Regions from separate parts of the Homo sapiens genome. Here region 1 is linked to region 2. Evidence: fine-mapped expression QTL. Tissue or cell type: cerebellum. Region 2 holds a variant in brackets; the other region holds the start of a gene. All regions are shown on one strand. Distances are between the middles of the regions.

Region 1 (8,288 bases), 480 kb after region 2:
AGCTGCAAAAGAAGACTTTGCAGCTCCAGGCCAAGGAAAAGGAGGTGAGAGGGTGACCTGAGATAGTGAGGGCTCATTTGCGAAATAGCAGAGAAACCTGGGAGGCAGTCAAAAAGCAGGGATTTCAAAGTTTAAGTTGTGAGTGGATAACCACAGACATTCATTTGCCTACATAAAGTGTCTGTGCTTTTGGGCTGACTTGTCAATCTTTTCCCTTCCTTATTTATACCAACTCCTATTCAAGGTTTTATTAAATGATTACCTTTTAGAAAGTCGACCAAAACTCAAACACATTTAATAAAAATATTAACTTCTCAATATGTCGTCCCACATTGAGTATCTTAAGTCTTTATATGTCTCTTAAAGAGTAAAACTCTTCCTTTGTACATACTCACAAACATACACATCCCCAGAAGTATTGATATGCAACTAGCTCCTGGGAAAGAAACTTGTACTAAGGTCACTTCTAGGTCGTTTGTTCTATAAGAACTTCATTTTTCGGTGTCTCTCATTTGCAAAGCACTTGCACGTAAAGTCATATAAAAGAACTTAAATGTATAAAATGTAATACTATAATATGCATTACTGTCAATCATTTAAATGAACACATTCCAGACAATGTAAGACAGTCAAAAGACAAACTCAAATCCCTGAGAATGGCTGGGAAGGGAAGATGGTGGTAAAAATTCCAAATGAGTGAAACTTACAAAGGGCAGTCTCCCCTGCCTGGGCTCTGTCCTAGACAGAAGTGACAGTGATGACTTTGGTGATGTTCTCCCCAGTGCAGAGAACTGCATTCAGAATTAGACAACCTCAGTGACGAGTATCTCTCCTGCCTGCGTAAGCTGCAGCACTGTCGAGAAGAGCTGAACCAGAGCCAGCAGCTGCCTCCCAGAGTAAGAGGGTCTCTCCTTCCCATAAAGCCCTGGATGATGGGACGATTCCTTCTTTAACCAAGTTTTGCACATAAAATATATCAGCCCACGCCAACAACTGGCCATCCTGTCCCACTGTGCTTGGTTTATACTATACTGACATTATGGCAACCATTGAAAAAAACACTGGCTCGTCCATCAAAGCCCAACTTTCACAGAACTCTCAATGCCAGAAGGAAAGACTTACTCTTAGCTAAAGTATGAAAGGGTGTTCTTTTAGCCGATGATAAGCATGGTGGCAAGAACAGAAGGACACAAAAGTACTGGGGAATACAAAGAAAGAATATAATTTTGCTGGGTTATTTTCCACCCTTCATTATTCATATCAGTATTTATATATCTGGTCCCTGATGGATACGGCTCCCTGGGCCAGAGAACATTGGTTAAGTGGTTTTATCCCAAGACAGGTGACAAAATGGGAGACAGAGTAAAAAGCTTTTTCTCCACCACCAACCCAGCGTTTTCCACTGGGCTAGAGTAGGAAGAAGAAAGATTTTTGCCTATATCTTTTCCAATCCACTCATGGCCACTTTCTTCTGTCTCCCTGTCCCCCTACAGAGGCAATGTGGGCGATGGCTCCCAGTGCTGATGGTGGTGATTGCTGCAGCACTGGCAGTGTTCCTGGCCAATAAAGACAACCTGATGATCTGAATAATTTGTGACAACTGCCTTGGGTGAAAATCAGAAGCAAGCAACTCAGCGAAAAACTCAGAAGGTTTGGGTACATTACAGCTTGGGTTTTCCAACTGACTTAGGATTTCTGACTTTTTATTAATTTCTTAACCTACTGTAAATAAACTTCACCTGACCAGATTGTTCCTCAGAACTCTCAGTTTATTCCTGAATGGTGTATTACATTAACAAGTATCACATATTTAAGCATACTGGTGGTCTACTCTCCTCAAATTCAGTTGGAGGCATATAAACATGCAGAAAAGCCCCCAGCCCTACTTTCCTAGCATGCAGCACCCACATAGAGCAGGTATATTTACAAGGTTACCATGCAAGAGTGTTTGGCTTGTCTTCCATCACCCTGCTTTTCCTCTATCATCTCCTTCCTTCTATCTTTTATCCAGTGAAAATGAAAACATCTCCACTAAGAGGACTTCCTAGTATAGAAATGGCAAGTATGTACTATCTACCAATTTGCTACTAGCACCACCATTACCTATTTACATGCCCTTTGCATTTGTGGCCAACTGATCTACAGCATTGTGCCTTAGTGTATTCAAGACACTTGGAATTGGCAGTTGAGATGATTATTTGCCATCCCCAACCTAGAGATGATCATTTACTGAGTACCTTCTATATGGGAGGAGAGTTAAAGTCAGAGGGCCACAGCCGGCAGTGTGACTATCTCAGAGGAGATGCTGAGATCAGCAAAGTCATTCTGAGTCCTAAATCGGGTTCTGAGGTCCTTCTCCCAGGTGTTTAGAATGTCCCTCAGGCCTGGGAACAAACTCTCTGGGACACTAAAAGAATAGAGCAGGATTGGGGGTTGACCTAGCAACCATGAGATCCGGGCAGTGAATACTCGTAGTGGAGTCAGAGCTAAGCAGTTGTCATCTCCCTGGTTCAGGTGAAAGGTATAGGGAACAGGATAGCCCAGGAGGATCCCAAATACAGTACACAGATTCCAGTCTGAGGAATGGAGCCTGCTGTAGGAGACTGCTAGAGATAAGTCCCTCTGCAGCCCCTGCAAATGTGTGATGATCTCAGCCACGAGGGCCTTCAAGTCCTGAAGCTGGTCCAGGGAGCAGACAGAAGGGTGACGCTGGCAGCTGGAAACATCCACAAAGGCTATGGTACCAAGCAGCACCTGCTCCAAGTGCTGACATACATGCTCAGGACTGACAATCAGGCTGTTTTCTCCAATCTCAAGGATGTGAAGTCCAAAAGTCAGGAAGCCAAGCCCCTTCAGCTCCTCCAGATAGCTCTGGAGCTCTGATGCCCCTGCACAGTTGCAATCATAGAGCACAGCTGGCTTCAGTCCCCGGGCCACAGCCAGCACCTCTCCAGCTAAGTGAAGGCAGATGGCTTGGGGTGGACTCCGTCTCTTTCCCATGCCAAGGGTCTGCTGAGCAGCTGCCACCAGCAGCTGAGGGCTCGGTGATGACATGAGATCTAGAAGCAACATCAAGAATGGCCTCCTTAGCTAGCCCGAGTTCCCTTCCCTGGGTGGCATCTTTCAGCCAGACACTTGAGGAGGGGCCTAGAAACAAAGCAGGAGCAGGGAATTATTAACAGCCTTCCTGTTAAATCGCGGTATCTTCCAAAGGTTATTCTGTCCCTCCCTGCTTTGAAATGGCGACCCAGCCCAGACAAGATAGTTTCACCGATGCTGCTTGATTTTTCTGGTTGACTTGGTCTCCCTCAATCATAAATTCGTGTGTTTTTCTAGCCTTATAGCTAGATTTATATTCCCTCTGGCTTTTATTCTAAATTTCACCTGTTGCAAATTACGTTCTCTGGTTCAAACCGTAGGGAATTTGGGGCAGAGGCGGAGGCGGGGCAGTGTTTGGCAAAATTCACAGCATTTCGCCCAAAAGCCCTTCTGGGACAGAGCTCCAAGTTCCAAATGTATCCTTTCCACTGACAACTCCCCTACTCTTCCCGCCAGAGAATAGTTATAAGAATAGTAATTTGATTAATATACACCAGAATGTGGACTAACAACCATCTCACCCTGACACATAAAAATGAATGAATGAAATCCACTAGAACTGCAGAAGGGTAGTATTTTAACTTCTGCTGGCCCCGCCTTCCCTTTCTGTCCGACATCAAGGACCCTCGGAAGATGAGATTTCTCCGATCCACACACCCCACACCAGAGCATGTTATAGTGATTTGCTAAATGAGGCATAAGTCTGTCTCACATACGTTCTTTTTCCACGTCCGCTACAGGTTCGGGGGCTCAGAAACTTTTTGCGGCTTCCTGCCTGCTGCCAGAAAGGCAGCTAGTCCCCCACGCCCAGCCGCAAGTAACACTGGAAAACCCGCCTGCGCTGGGAAGACCCTCGCAGCCCGCTCTGCTCCAGTCCCGCAGGCACCTTCTTGCGCATGCGCACCCACTCGAGTGCCGCCCTCTTTCCCCCCATTCCGTGACGTCATCCAGCCGCTCGCGCGCCTCGCGTTAGAATCACTAGCTAGGCAGCCTTACTGCGCGCCGGAAGTTTGGGCCACCGTGCGGCCCGCCCTTTCCGGCCAGACTGAACGCGGCCCCATCTGTCGGCTTAGGAACTGGGAAGGGCGGAAGTAAACGAGAAAAGGCGGAACCTGGTGAAACTGGTTTCCCGCTGCTGCCCTCATTTTGCTTCGCCGAACGTCCTCCCTGTGTTATGACGTCTGGTGTCCCACTTGACTGGGAATCCAGAAACAGGGCACACAGCAGTTAATAAACACCTTTGATTTGTGTCTGTGGAAATACGTTTTGTCCAGACGAAACATACCTCAAGACAACATATTTTGCAGAATAGCCTCACCTGTGGGTGGTGCTGAAACGTTTTAATTTTTTTTAACTTGACTTCCCTAAATCCTACATTTGAGAGGCCTACAACAGCTCTCTAGGGAGGGTGTGAAGGTGTGAGTATTCACTTTGAACAAATATGTGCCAGTCATGCTGCTAGGCCCTGGAGGTACTGCAGTGAGCAAAACAGACAAAACCCCCACTTTCATGGGGCTTAAGTTCATGTCTACTGAATCCAGTTTGCTGATTTCAAATAAGAAATGAGAAGTGATGACACAGAGGCTTTCCAGTCAGGTCATTACAAAGAAAAAGTGTTATTTCACGTAAGAGTTAACACCTTTTTAACTACCAGCGATTTGACCCATGCCACGAAGGGAAAGGATTTCTTGAGAAAACCCCAATATCTAAGGAAATGGCCCCAATTTATTTATACTTGGAGCAGGACAGAGATTAAGGGAACAGTGGACACCTACACTGGAGTTGTCACTCCTGGATCTATCTTGGTGGTGCCTTCAGTCCATGAAAAGTGAATTGTACAGTAAAGATGGGGTCAGCATGGGAGGAGGACCAGCTTATAGGAGTTACCAGCCTAAGGCTGTCTGGTTCTTAGCTCAGAGGGAATCAGAAGCTGAGAGTAGAAAGTAGTCTTCTAATTTTAGAACGTTTTCCTTCCCCGCATTTATTTAATTTTCCCATGGTGGTTAACAGTAAATCCCTAAAAGACTGATTTAGTTCATTCATTTATTCCAGCAACAAATATTTGAGAACACACTGTGTCCCAGACACTGTTCTAAGGACTGGCAGCGAAGTCCAAGACAAACAGTCCCTACCTTCAGCAAGTTTGCAGTCAAGCAGGATGCGGATGCTGAGCATTACAAGGGAAATGATTATTCTGAGAGAGGAAGTATGGGGTGCTATGGGAACATACAACCAGGGACCTAATTTTATGGGAAAGGGACCAGCCCAGATCCAACACTTGCTCTCCCAGTTTACCTCCAGTAGGTTCTTTTTAACTTGAACTAATCTTGTTTGGTGGGGTACACAGTGAGGAAAAAGAAGAGCTAGTGACAAAATCTAACTCCCTTCTCAGTCTTAAGCAAGGTGAAGGCAAGGGAGTAGAAGATATCAAGGGAGTGAGTGGTGGTAGCCACCAAAGGAGATAGCAGACTGAGGCCCTAAAAAAAGAAAGGAAATCTAAATCTATCCAGCAGGACCAGAGAAAGAGTGCTGAGGGTGATTAGATGGAATCCCTGCATGTACTCTCCCGGCATTCTGAAAAGAAGCCAAAACAAGGAAGAAACCGGGGTATCTAGTTAAGACCTCACAAATCACTCATCCATTCCTCTGACATGTTCATAAACTTTTTATAGTGGTTACGAACCAAAAGCTTGGCATTTCTTGGCACTTTTCCAATACCCTTTACCAGCTCACATTATCTGGGCTCCCACCCAGGCTACAGATAGCCTGGCTGTTAGCACTTCACAGAAGGGATATAGACTGGCCCAGATTCAAGAGCTGCCCTTCTAATTTACCTACAGTGGGTTTTTAACTTTGAGTTCCCACGTAGAGATGGGGCAGCCAAATATCAAGCCCAAATCCCTCACTTCACCTACTCAACAAAATGACCCCCAAAATGTAAAGTTTCTGTGCCTTTAATGCTTCCCGGTCCCTAAAAGCCCAACTTTTCCTCGAAGCTGGGCACCTGACCTTTAGCCAGGTTTCTTAATCTTTTCATGCTTTTCATAATAGCAAATTCCACTAGGTCTCTTAGAAACTCTAAAACCAAGGCTTAAGCACTTTAAATAAATAAGTCCTCATGTCACCACTGATTTTGAACTTTTAGTTTTTAAAATAAGGCTAGCTCAACTTTTGAGTCATTTTGAAAAGTTGGAGATGGCCTGGTTTAAAGGTACCAGACTAGACATGGGCTTCCTTACTATGTCCCGACACAGACAGATAGGCATCACTATTCAAGAGGACTGGGGCTTGCAACCACAGATTAGCATCTTATTTGCCATTTAGGTCCCAGATTGCTTGAGCCCAGGAGTTCAAGACCAGCCTGGGCAACATAGCAAGACCTCATCTCTACAAAAATAAAAAAAAAATTAGCCAAGCATCATAGTGCACGACTGTTGTCCCAACTACTCAGGAGGCTGGGGCAGGACGATTGCTTGAGCCCAGGAGCTTAAAGCTGCAGTAAGTGGTGACTTGCCACTGCACTCCAGCCTGGGCAACAAAGCAAGACTCTGTCTCAAAAAAGAAGAGAAAGCTGAAAGGGTTAGAGACTCAGCAGATGTTTCTAGATAAGACCAGTTTGTGACAGATACAGCTGCATTGTTCTATACCACTCTTTACCTTCACTGTTCACACTCAGATACCTCCACTAGTAAGGGAGACAAGCAGGTTCGTGCTAGGTGAGCCTTTCCAGAAGAGTACTGCCCAGCCCTTCTTCATCCCAGCCTTAACACACTCAACAACCCATTTCTTCCAACTGCAAAAAATCTAAATGATACTGTCCCTTTTGTAGTCAGAGAAGTACATCTTAGATCCCCAGCTCAGTCTAGCTCAGAGAAGAAAACAAGAAAAATAGAGCTCTTTCCTCTTAAAGCTAACACCTGAGTCACATACTGTCACCTACCCCCTCTCCCTGCCGCCCCCCCAACACACACACACTGGTATTTGAGTGGTAATAAGGTAAATGCCTGACAACCTATTCTTCCACAGAATCCCTAGGCTTTCTGTGTCAACAGCTTCCCTTTAGAAGCCAAATTTGTGAGCTTTCACTCCACAGGCTGGGTGACTTTCAGACTTTGGCACCCATTTCTATTTAGATATCAAGCATAGTTTCTAAGCAACCAGCCAGCCAGCTCCTCTCCCTCTCACTTCCCCCATCAGGGAGCCAGCTTACTATACTAGCAGAACAGGTCAAACAGAGCTCGATCCTGGACAAATCAGTGCTTGAGGAAACTTTAACAAAACCAAGGAAAAATGTGGTACAAGAACAATGCAGAAGGATTCTGTTCCAGGCAGTTTAGCCTTGTACAAGTAGAAGAAGGTCATTGAGTCCGTTCTAAAGCTGGATGCAATTTCAGGCACTACTCCAATCTCTTCACTTTATAAGCAATAAATCTGAAGCCCAGAGGTTAAAGGACTTGTTCAAGGTCACATTGGAAGCAAAGCTGCAGCTAGAACTTTGGTGTCCAAACTCCCAGGCCAAATCTCCTTCTACTATGCTATATCATACTACCATTAGGAGATTTGAAAAAGAAAAGCAAAGTCTGAAGGGTGATTTTTCCATAAATTAAATCAGCTTTAAATCTAGGCATATTTGGAGAATCACAAACTTCTAACACTGTTAGAGAAAAGAGAGATTTAAAAGCTGGTTAAATCTAAACAATAAAAAAATCCATATGTACAATATTATAAAAAAGAGAAGGAAGAAGATGGCATTCACAATTACTGGGGAGGCAGGGCAGGGGGCAGTTGCATGCTGGGGGTGGGCTGCATGGGCTGCCAGCTCTCCTGGGTTTGAAGGATGCGGTACAGCTGCTTCAGCTGAGCAACGATGTTATCCTTGATGTCTGGGGTTGAGATCTGCAGGCGGACACTGCCACTATCAAAGGATCGTGTGAAATCACCAGAAAACATCTCGTAGATCATCCGAGCCACTACTGGAATGACCTGTTCAGGACACAGAACACAGGTGTATCCTCTGAGGAAAAGGTATTTTTAAATAGCACAATGGACCCAAGATTGAAGGACAGACCAAAGAGGCCCTGAGGAAGACCCCATTCTGATGTCTAAATATAGGATATGCCTTCATCTCTCTGGACCATCCTTCTGCCAAGGCTCACTGTGGAAGTTGGTTCAAATGAAGGTAAAGAACC
Region 2 (8,288 bases):
TCACTCCTTCATCAGCTCTTCACCTTGCAAAAGTCTATCTGATTATTTTAATTCAGTTTGTAATCATTCAAAAATTGTTTACCTACTATCTTCCAGATTCTAAGGAAACATGTGAACAAACATGTAACTTACCTGTGTTCATTGTTGTTATATTCCCCCAATTACTTTGTCCTTTTGTTCCTTTATGATTGTTTCATGGAGCTTGGGTAACTGGAGAGAGAAATGTGTCATCAACTAACCATATATATTCAGAAGTTCTATGATCAGGCTAAGGGTTTACTTATCTCTCTTGGATACAGGAATATCTGAGAGTACAATGGGGTTACATGAATAAAAATGTCAGCCTAACATTCCCAAACTAATGGACTAGAAGCAAGGCCTAATGGGACTTTAAAAGATATGGTTATGGTTTATACAAACCCTTCCCAGTAGAAGTAGCCTATAATATTCTCACTCTACTTTTTAGTCATGAGAAACATTTCAACCTTACTCAGGGTTGTCTCCCATTGATTTCATATTTGAGGAGTTGCCCAAAAGTTCTCTTCCCTTTGCAGAAAAGCATCCCCATTGCCTATAAAGTCCAAATTCTTCAGCATGGTATCCTAAGCCCTTCCTGATTTTTCTGCCAACAATATTTTAGCCAGTCTCCTGGAACATCCCCCCAGTCATTGACATCACATTTCACTGCTTCTCCCACACCAAACATTATATTATATTTATGCCTGCTCATGCTGTTTCCTCAACCTGAAATATACTCCACTCCCTTATCTTATATAGTCCCACGAATAAGCTCATTGTTATTTCCTCTCTGTAGCCTTCCTTGATCCTTGGTCAAAAGCATTTCTTCTTTCTGATGTATGCCTACAACACCTCTTCGCACTTCTGTTTAGGACGTTATCTTGGCTTGCCTTGTAGTTGACTACTAACATCTGTTTCTCATTCCATTATTTGAAAGCTTCTTGAAGGCAGATAGGAATATAATATGTAAGGTAGGCATTAAATAGATGTTTATTTGTTTAAATAAGTTTCTTAAAGAGATAAACATATTTGTCATGGAAAATGGATTAATTATAAAGTCAAAGTTGGAAAATACAGAGAGTTGATAGTGGAGAAGTTCACTCTACCCAGGAACCAGTGACACCAAATTGTGCAGCAAAATTGTTGGACTTCAATAATCTGACAAATGCCCTCCCTCAGCTTTGTGTGCCTGGTGAGAATTCTCTCCTTTGAAGCATCACTTCTTCTGGTGATAACCCAGAGCAGACATAGCTGTCCCTACCTTACACTCCCAAAACATTTTGAACAAAATTATATTTGATAAACACTCATGCTGTGTTGTAATGCCTTCTTTGCCTCTATCACTGGAATATGAGCTTTATTTTTTTCTAATAGGATTTCATATGCACAGAATTGGATTAATTATAATTTCTGGTTTATCACTAGACTCTGTGTAGTCCCACCTTTCAATGTTTTTGTTGTTAAATAAAGTCTTATGTGGCTAGTAATGTGCTAGGGTCTGGGAATCTGAAGAGAATAAAACACATTCCCTGTCCTCAATGAGTTTAGTTAATGCCTTCTCTTCTTTGTATCTTCAGCCTTTAGCTTAATGCCTGGCACATGGTACATGCCCCCTATAACATATGTTTCCTCTGCCTGATTCTTGAATTTAGAGAGCCCCTGAGTTTAGTTTTTATAATGCTTATCTTCCCTATCAACATACTCCTGAAATTCTCATCTAGCCCTAAAGCTATAAGTACTATCCCAAACACATATTCTCAGTTTCAGTCTACACCATAAACTTAACTTATACATCCAACTTCCTCCGTGAAATCTCCACCAGGATATCTCATAGGCATCTCACACTTAAAGGGTCTAAAACAGAGTTCTTGACCCAGTCCCAGTCTGCCTGCCACCAAACCTGCTTCTCCTCCATGGTCTCCTGTTTTGTAGATTTAGCTCAAGCTAAGTTCCCTGCATTCATCCTTGGCTCTTTTTTTGTCTAACATCCCCACAGTTAATTCATCAGAAATATTGTTGGTTTTACCCCATAAAATATTTGTTTGCTCATTGTTGAGTCTTCCACTAGGGATAAGTTTAGTGAGGCTAGACATTTTGTCCATTTTGTTAATTCAAGTACCCCTAGCACTTAGCATATGGCAGGAACTCAATAAACATTGGTTGAATAAAATTTAAACAAATATTTGTGAAAGAAAGAACAAATAAGTACATGGGATCTCAGACCTGCCCTCTAGATAAATAAATTTAGGGAACAGCAGTTACCATGTTTTTCATTTGGAATGAGCCAACAATCTTGTTTTCGGTTAATACTTTAGAACGCAGAAATCAAACATGGAATACTTCTATAATAAAAAAGAAAAATTGTTTTTAAATTTGTCCATCTCATAAAAAAGTAAGCTATGTCAGAAGCGTTTTGTCCAGAAGATAGAAGATGTCATAAATGGATAAAACTTCTCTGACTAAATATTCTAATCAAATACTGGCTTCTGCTATAAAATAAAATACTACTCATTCCAACAAAACCTGTCTTTATTTTTTTTTTCAGGGAAAGGGAGAAAAGAAAAACACAAAAATTGGAACCCACAGCTATATCTACGTGTCTCCTGTTTCATGCAAGTGGTAAGAAATGAAAGAATATTAAAAGAGAGACTGAGGAGCTAGAAGTAATTATTGAGTGTCTCCAGTAGGATGTGAATCAAAATTTTGCTATGTGTGGTTTGCAAAAAGATTAAATGATAGCATTAAAGCTTGTGTATACCCAACTGCCCCAGATGGAAGACCTACTATAGCTGCTGTAATCTGTCCAGGTTATTTCAACTCTTGATCCAGGGAAGAGTTCCTGATAAATAAAGTTAGTCCCAGAAGCTTATTCAAGATAATGTTTTCATAACCCTACAGTGCTTGTATAAATCCACTGTTCACCCCACTTCACCAAAAAAAAAAAAAAGGTTGCAGCCTCTTTCCAGCACTTGTAATCTTTTGAGAGAAATAGACGAATCATAATTGCACATATAGATAACATTGCCATTTTAAGTCTCTATATGGAATAACATCAGAGACATTTATGGTCTCCCTCAGAGGGATTCAAGAAGCAGGTTTAACAATAAATGTCAGCTCCTGTTACCTAGAGTGCCATACACAGATCACATGGTGAGGAGTAGAAAGGTAACACATTTCTAGAATAAAATGAATTCTGCACACAGATGGAAGGTTCCAAAACCAAGATAAAAATCTAAGAGTTCAACAGGTTTTTTGGGCATTATTTTATACTGTAGTCCTTACCTTTAAATGCAAAATAAATAATTCTATCTGAACTGCTGAAGCCTAGTGGAATATAACCAATTGAATTCTCATTTTCCAGGAGACATAGTCTCTCTGGTGCCTGCGACTATTCGTGTTAGTCCAAGTTCTTTGATAAACAGACACCAAGCTGAGATTAAACATGGTGAAATACTTTTATGGAGAATATACCTGTAAGAGAAAATAAGAAGGGAGCTGGGGAGACGCGAAGAGCCATCAGACTACCATGCAAGTCTGAGACTTCCAAAGAAAAAAGACAGGAAGAAAGATTGGGTAGAATTGTCTTAGATCACCATGAAGACTCAGGACAGTACAGCAGGGCCATAGGGCAATTATCAAGATGAAATCTAAAGAATCCGGTATTTCCTAGAGTTTGGTTTGCCTTAGTATCCCTGCCAACCTCAGTCACTGTCCGGGAGCCACCTCTGGGAGGTGTGACCTTGGCATAAGCACAGTAATGCAGCTCAGAGCCCAGCAGCTGGGACTCTTGGTTAACTATGCCCCCCAGGAGTTAGAGGTTTGCATGGGGCATTCTCACAGCTACTATACTAAGGTGCTGGGATAGCATCAGTGCAAGACAGTAAAGAGAATATTTCCTAAGTATGGAATGAATGTTAATTCCCTCTTTCTGAGCAAGGAATTAAAGCTCCCAAAGAGCTAATTAATGATAGTTCAGAAAAAAAGACTGTCTGCTAACTTCCGGCCCTAAAAGATCTGTGTTTCTCTCCAGTGTTAATTCATCCCAGAGCACTTAACAGAGTTAAGCAGCATGAAACCCTTGAACTCTAAGCACCATCAATGAGCCTTAGAGCTGGATTCTTGAGTAAGTTATCATCAAATTCTCAATTATGACGGCAAATGCATTTCTCAGAGAGTTTTTGGATTAATTTATAAACCTTAAGGCTAAATGGAATGAAATATACCTTATTTCAAAGGCTGGAAGAACTTACGAGGTTCTGGTTGTTTGAATGCCCTACCAATGAGAGATATACACAGGGCTCCCCACGTGCCTTGCTTCCGGAATGGGAAAAGCCACTTGAAGCATGGGAAGAATAATCCGCAAGAATCTAGAAAGGGTTCTTTCAACGTAAAGTTCCCTAGATTAAAGTGGAGGAGAGGCAGGGAAGTTACCTGCATGTTCCATAAACAGTGCTAGTCTGTAAGACCTTTGGCAAGATGGCAAACCAGGGAGCAGAAATCTGCACATGATCATTTTATTCCAAGTAGATGTTTGAAGGGGAGAGAGAGAAAAAGAGACAGAGAGAGAATGTGTGTGTATTTCAGTGGGGCAGAGAGTACTTCTCCTTTTACTTCCTAGGACAAGTTCTAAGAGGAAAAGGATTTGCCAAGGACATCTAGGCCTCTGCCTAGATGACCTCCAGACGCCAGCTTCAGGCTGCAAGGCCAGGGGAGGGCCAGTGAAACTGAGAAATCAAGGGACTTGTTTCTTGAATTCTC[G/T]ATTTCTTGAATGAGGGCCAAGTGCCAGATTTTGTTTTTGTTTCCCTGGACCTTTCTTCACCTGTCTGGGAAGAAAAGTTGGGCACGGAGGAAGAGCCCAAAACAAGGAGAAGACATTGCAGTCTCTCCACCCACGACCAATCCGGGAATGGTATTTCTTTGCTCCTCCTCCTCTAGGGTCTAAATCCCACCCAGAGGTCTGGCTGCCATTTCCTAGATTGGTTCTGCCCAGAGTGCAAAAGGGTTCCAGAAGGCGGGAGCCAAGGGAAAACCTAAAAAAAGTAAACAAAACAGAGAATCTACAGCCACCTCAGATGACAGCAAAGGATAAAAGAAGGCAAAGTGATCCCTGCTCACAGAGGAGAGGAAGGAGGGAGGCAGCAAATATATCACCCGCTATTGCTGAAAGGCTTACAAAAATCCGGTTATATTTTTTAATCATCTTGCATTTTAGATCTTTAAAGTACAAATATGGATTTCAAACATACCAAGGGAACAAATTAACTTAGAAAAATGGTAATGCTTTCCAAGGTTGCACCTGCCATGAAATTGCTCCAAGTTTGCATTTTCCCCAGGTCTCCAGTGTGTCATTAGGCCAGATTGATTGCGCTCCTCCCCCGAACAGCTCCCCCATTACAGGGTTATTGTATGGAAATTAGTGGAAGATTGGGAACATTTTTTTGCAGCTGCAGTGGCTGGAGTCAGTTTTGATTAAGTGATAGAAACCTGGTGCAGACGGGGAGATCTCTTTGCTTTAGCTGCCTCCTTTATTATCACTCAAGTGCAGCTTCTCCCTGTGTGGATCTTTTGCTGCTTTTTAGACAGTGCTGTTTACACTGAGTCATCTTTGTGTTTTTTTAATGTTTCCCAACTCAATTTCCCCATTAGTATTCTAATTTGATGTGAAACTTAAAACCAGTCTATTCATTCCTCATTTTCTATTTCCCTGTCTACACCCCTATCCCCACACCCCTGCTCCATCCCGACTTTTTGGAGATGCAACAATAAAGTGGTGATAGTCCTCATCCTCCATCCTTCTATCCTACTTATCCCCTAAGATAAACTATTGAAGGGGCCTAAACCAGCAATCAGAGCCATGGTGGCCCCAGGGGATTTCAAGGTGCAAATTAAGCCTTGGACTGGCTGCTCCAAGAACTGACAAGTGAGGGCTGACAGTTTTCCTCTCCTCGGGTTCTGTCAGGAGCTTGCAAATGTCCCAGAAAAACTGGGGCTCTGGCAGATTAGGAGTTGATCTGCTTGTCATGCAGGGTCAACATCAGACTACAGCAATTGAGGGCAACAAGACACGATGGAACAGAAAAATAAAGGACAGTTTAGGTGCAAATTGCCTGCAGTAAGTTGGAAGGGGGAGAGCGGCTGGGGGCGGGGGAGCACATAACCTCATATAGGCCTTTCCTATCTATACACTGGAGATCTCTCTTTCTGTGCTCTATTCTTTTCTACATTCATTCAAGCCTTCATTCATTTTCTCTTCCAGTATGTACTGAGTACCTCTCCTAGGTACTGTAATAGATGCTGAAACTGAAGAAAAAAGTGAACGAGAATAGTCTCCCAGTTCCATTGGAGAAGGTAGGCATATTAACAAAAAGTTACAATATAATTTGTACAGCAGGGGCAAGTGTTCTAGCAGAAATTTACTAAAAATTATTTGCAAGAACAGCAGAGGAAACCACAAAATCTGCCTTAATCAGGAAGTGTGCAGAAGGGCAGCTACCAGAGGAGGCTTTTAAGTGAGGTGACATTGGAACTGGTTCTTGGGCATCCCCCTGCCAGAGCATGGTGGAGGAGACAGATTTCAGTGAGAGGGACCAGCAACAAGCTCAGGTAGAAAAGAGAAGAGCACATCCACAGGGAAACGTGTGGTTTCTAGGGGCTGGAGCAGACATTCGGGGCAAAAAGTAATGGGAGATGAGCCTGGAAAAGCATGTTGAAATCAGATGATGAATACAGTAATAGGCATGCTGGGGAACCAAGACTGTATCAATGATAGAAACCAGGAGTCTCTGGAGGTTTTTAAGCAAAGGGTTTTTTTGTTTTGTTTTGTTTTGTTTTAATGCCTTTTTAGAAATTACACACTGAAAACAGTGTGGAGGGTAGCAGATTGATGTGGGGAGACTTCAGAGGATGAGACCACCATTATGGACATTACAATCATCCAGGTGAAAGCCCATGAAGCCTCTAACTCATCCATCTACCCAAACGCCTGTGTTAGGGCTTTTCGCCTGTCAAAAAACGATCCCAATATCCTCTCAGAGCTCATATGCCAAGGACACTTTTTTTAAAGTTAACTTTAAAATATTGCCATCTAGCAGTTTAGTAAGTTCCCTGACACATTGAATAACATCTCCTCTCTCCAGCAAGTGAGGATGGGGTCAATCTAAAATAGATATTTGCCAGTGGTCAAGACTGGATGCCTGGACTTGATTGATGTTTCCAGGACAGCCACTGAGTGGGTTGCACAGCCCACACCATTGACCTCATGAATCTTTTCCTTAATCCAGAGAGAAAATTAGCTCCTGCCTTTGAAGAATGACATCTGCCCCTGAAGCTATATTCCCTCTGCTGAACAAGAGCAGTCCTGATCTTTCTTCCCAAAACTCAGTCTGAGAGGCAGCTCCCTTTGGGGACTGAGATGATACCTGCCATTTCCAAATCTGTCCCGCGTCCCTCCAAGTGCCAATCCACATCTCTCCTCTATCCTCATGTCCTGTCCAAGGCTCCCACCTTTCACATTCTCCATACCTAGGATAAGCTGCTGCTGCTGAGAGCACCTGCTGTTATCAGAGAAAAGCAAGAGGCAATTGTCCATTACTATCTCAAATGCCTCCTGCTTAAATCAGTGTGGGGATTACCGTTGGACAGCTCAAAAATGATATACTGGGAGCCAATTTCTCTTTCCCCCATGGTCAGTCACCTTCCACCTGGCAGAGTAATCCTCAAAGCTCATTTAGGAATCCAGCTCATCTTGGTCCCTTTAATAGCCTTAAAGGGACAAGCTGATTCCCCAGGGTTGGTAATTTACTATCCTGATATCATCCTCTTGGGAGAAAAAGAGGGAGGCTCCAGCTAAAGGCTCCCTCCTCCTGAGATCTTGGGCTACATTCCTGCCTCTCCCCTTTCTTTTTTTCTTTTCATCTACCCCTCCCACAAACAGTGAAGTACAAAGACAGTGAAAAGTCTTGTGAATCTCTAACCAGTAGGCATTGTTGCAAGAGGAAAGTTGTGATTATTTCAGCTCCTAAAGTGCTTGGGGCACTTACACTGTTTTTCGTTGCTCTAAACTGTCTGCCTGCTATTTGGAAAGGGTAGGGTGATGCCAGGTCATGATATTTCACTTGTTGGAGAAGATAGTTCTCATGTAAAAAACACTATAATCACATCAGTTTGATAAAATGCTTCACAATTGAAGACTCCATCCCCATTTCCACTTGGAATATTTAACTTCTACAATATTCCAGTTTAGGAAAAGCATCATGGATTCAGGGTAACCT

Evidence for each region. PIP is the estimated chance that this variant, and not a neighbour inherited with it, causes the effect.
Region 1: it holds the start of C1orf74, and the variant in region 2 is fine-mapped to the expression of C1orf74 in cerebellum (GTEx, PIP 0.97).

Annotation. Positions count from the first base shown.
Region 1 is chr1:209,780,563-209,788,850 of GRCh38, forward strand. It overlaps C1orf74 (chromosome 1 open reading frame 74), which reads right to left and starts at 3,997. Exons shown (of 2, transcript NM_152485.4): 1 at 3,816-3,997; 2 at 1-3,147. The coding sequence starts at 3,072. The coding sequence ends at 2,263. TRAF3IP3 (TRAF3 interacting protein 3) reads left to right here. Exons shown (of 17, transcript NM_025228.4): 15 at 1-44; 16 at 783-896; 17 at 1,494-1,748. The coding sequence ends at 1,586. It overlaps IRF6 (interferon regulatory factor 6), which reads right to left. Exons shown (of 9, transcript NM_006147.4): 9 at 5,055-8,082. The coding sequence ends at 7,858. RefSeq lists enhancers at 3,702-4,319, 3,876-4,135, 4,320-4,935.
Region 2 is chr1:209,297,868-209,306,155 of GRCh38, forward strand. No RefSeq gene overlaps it. Among named protein-coding and RNA genes, the nearest start is that of LINC01696, 23 kb to the right of the region's middle. The variant G/T (reference allele first, on the strand shown) is at 4,777.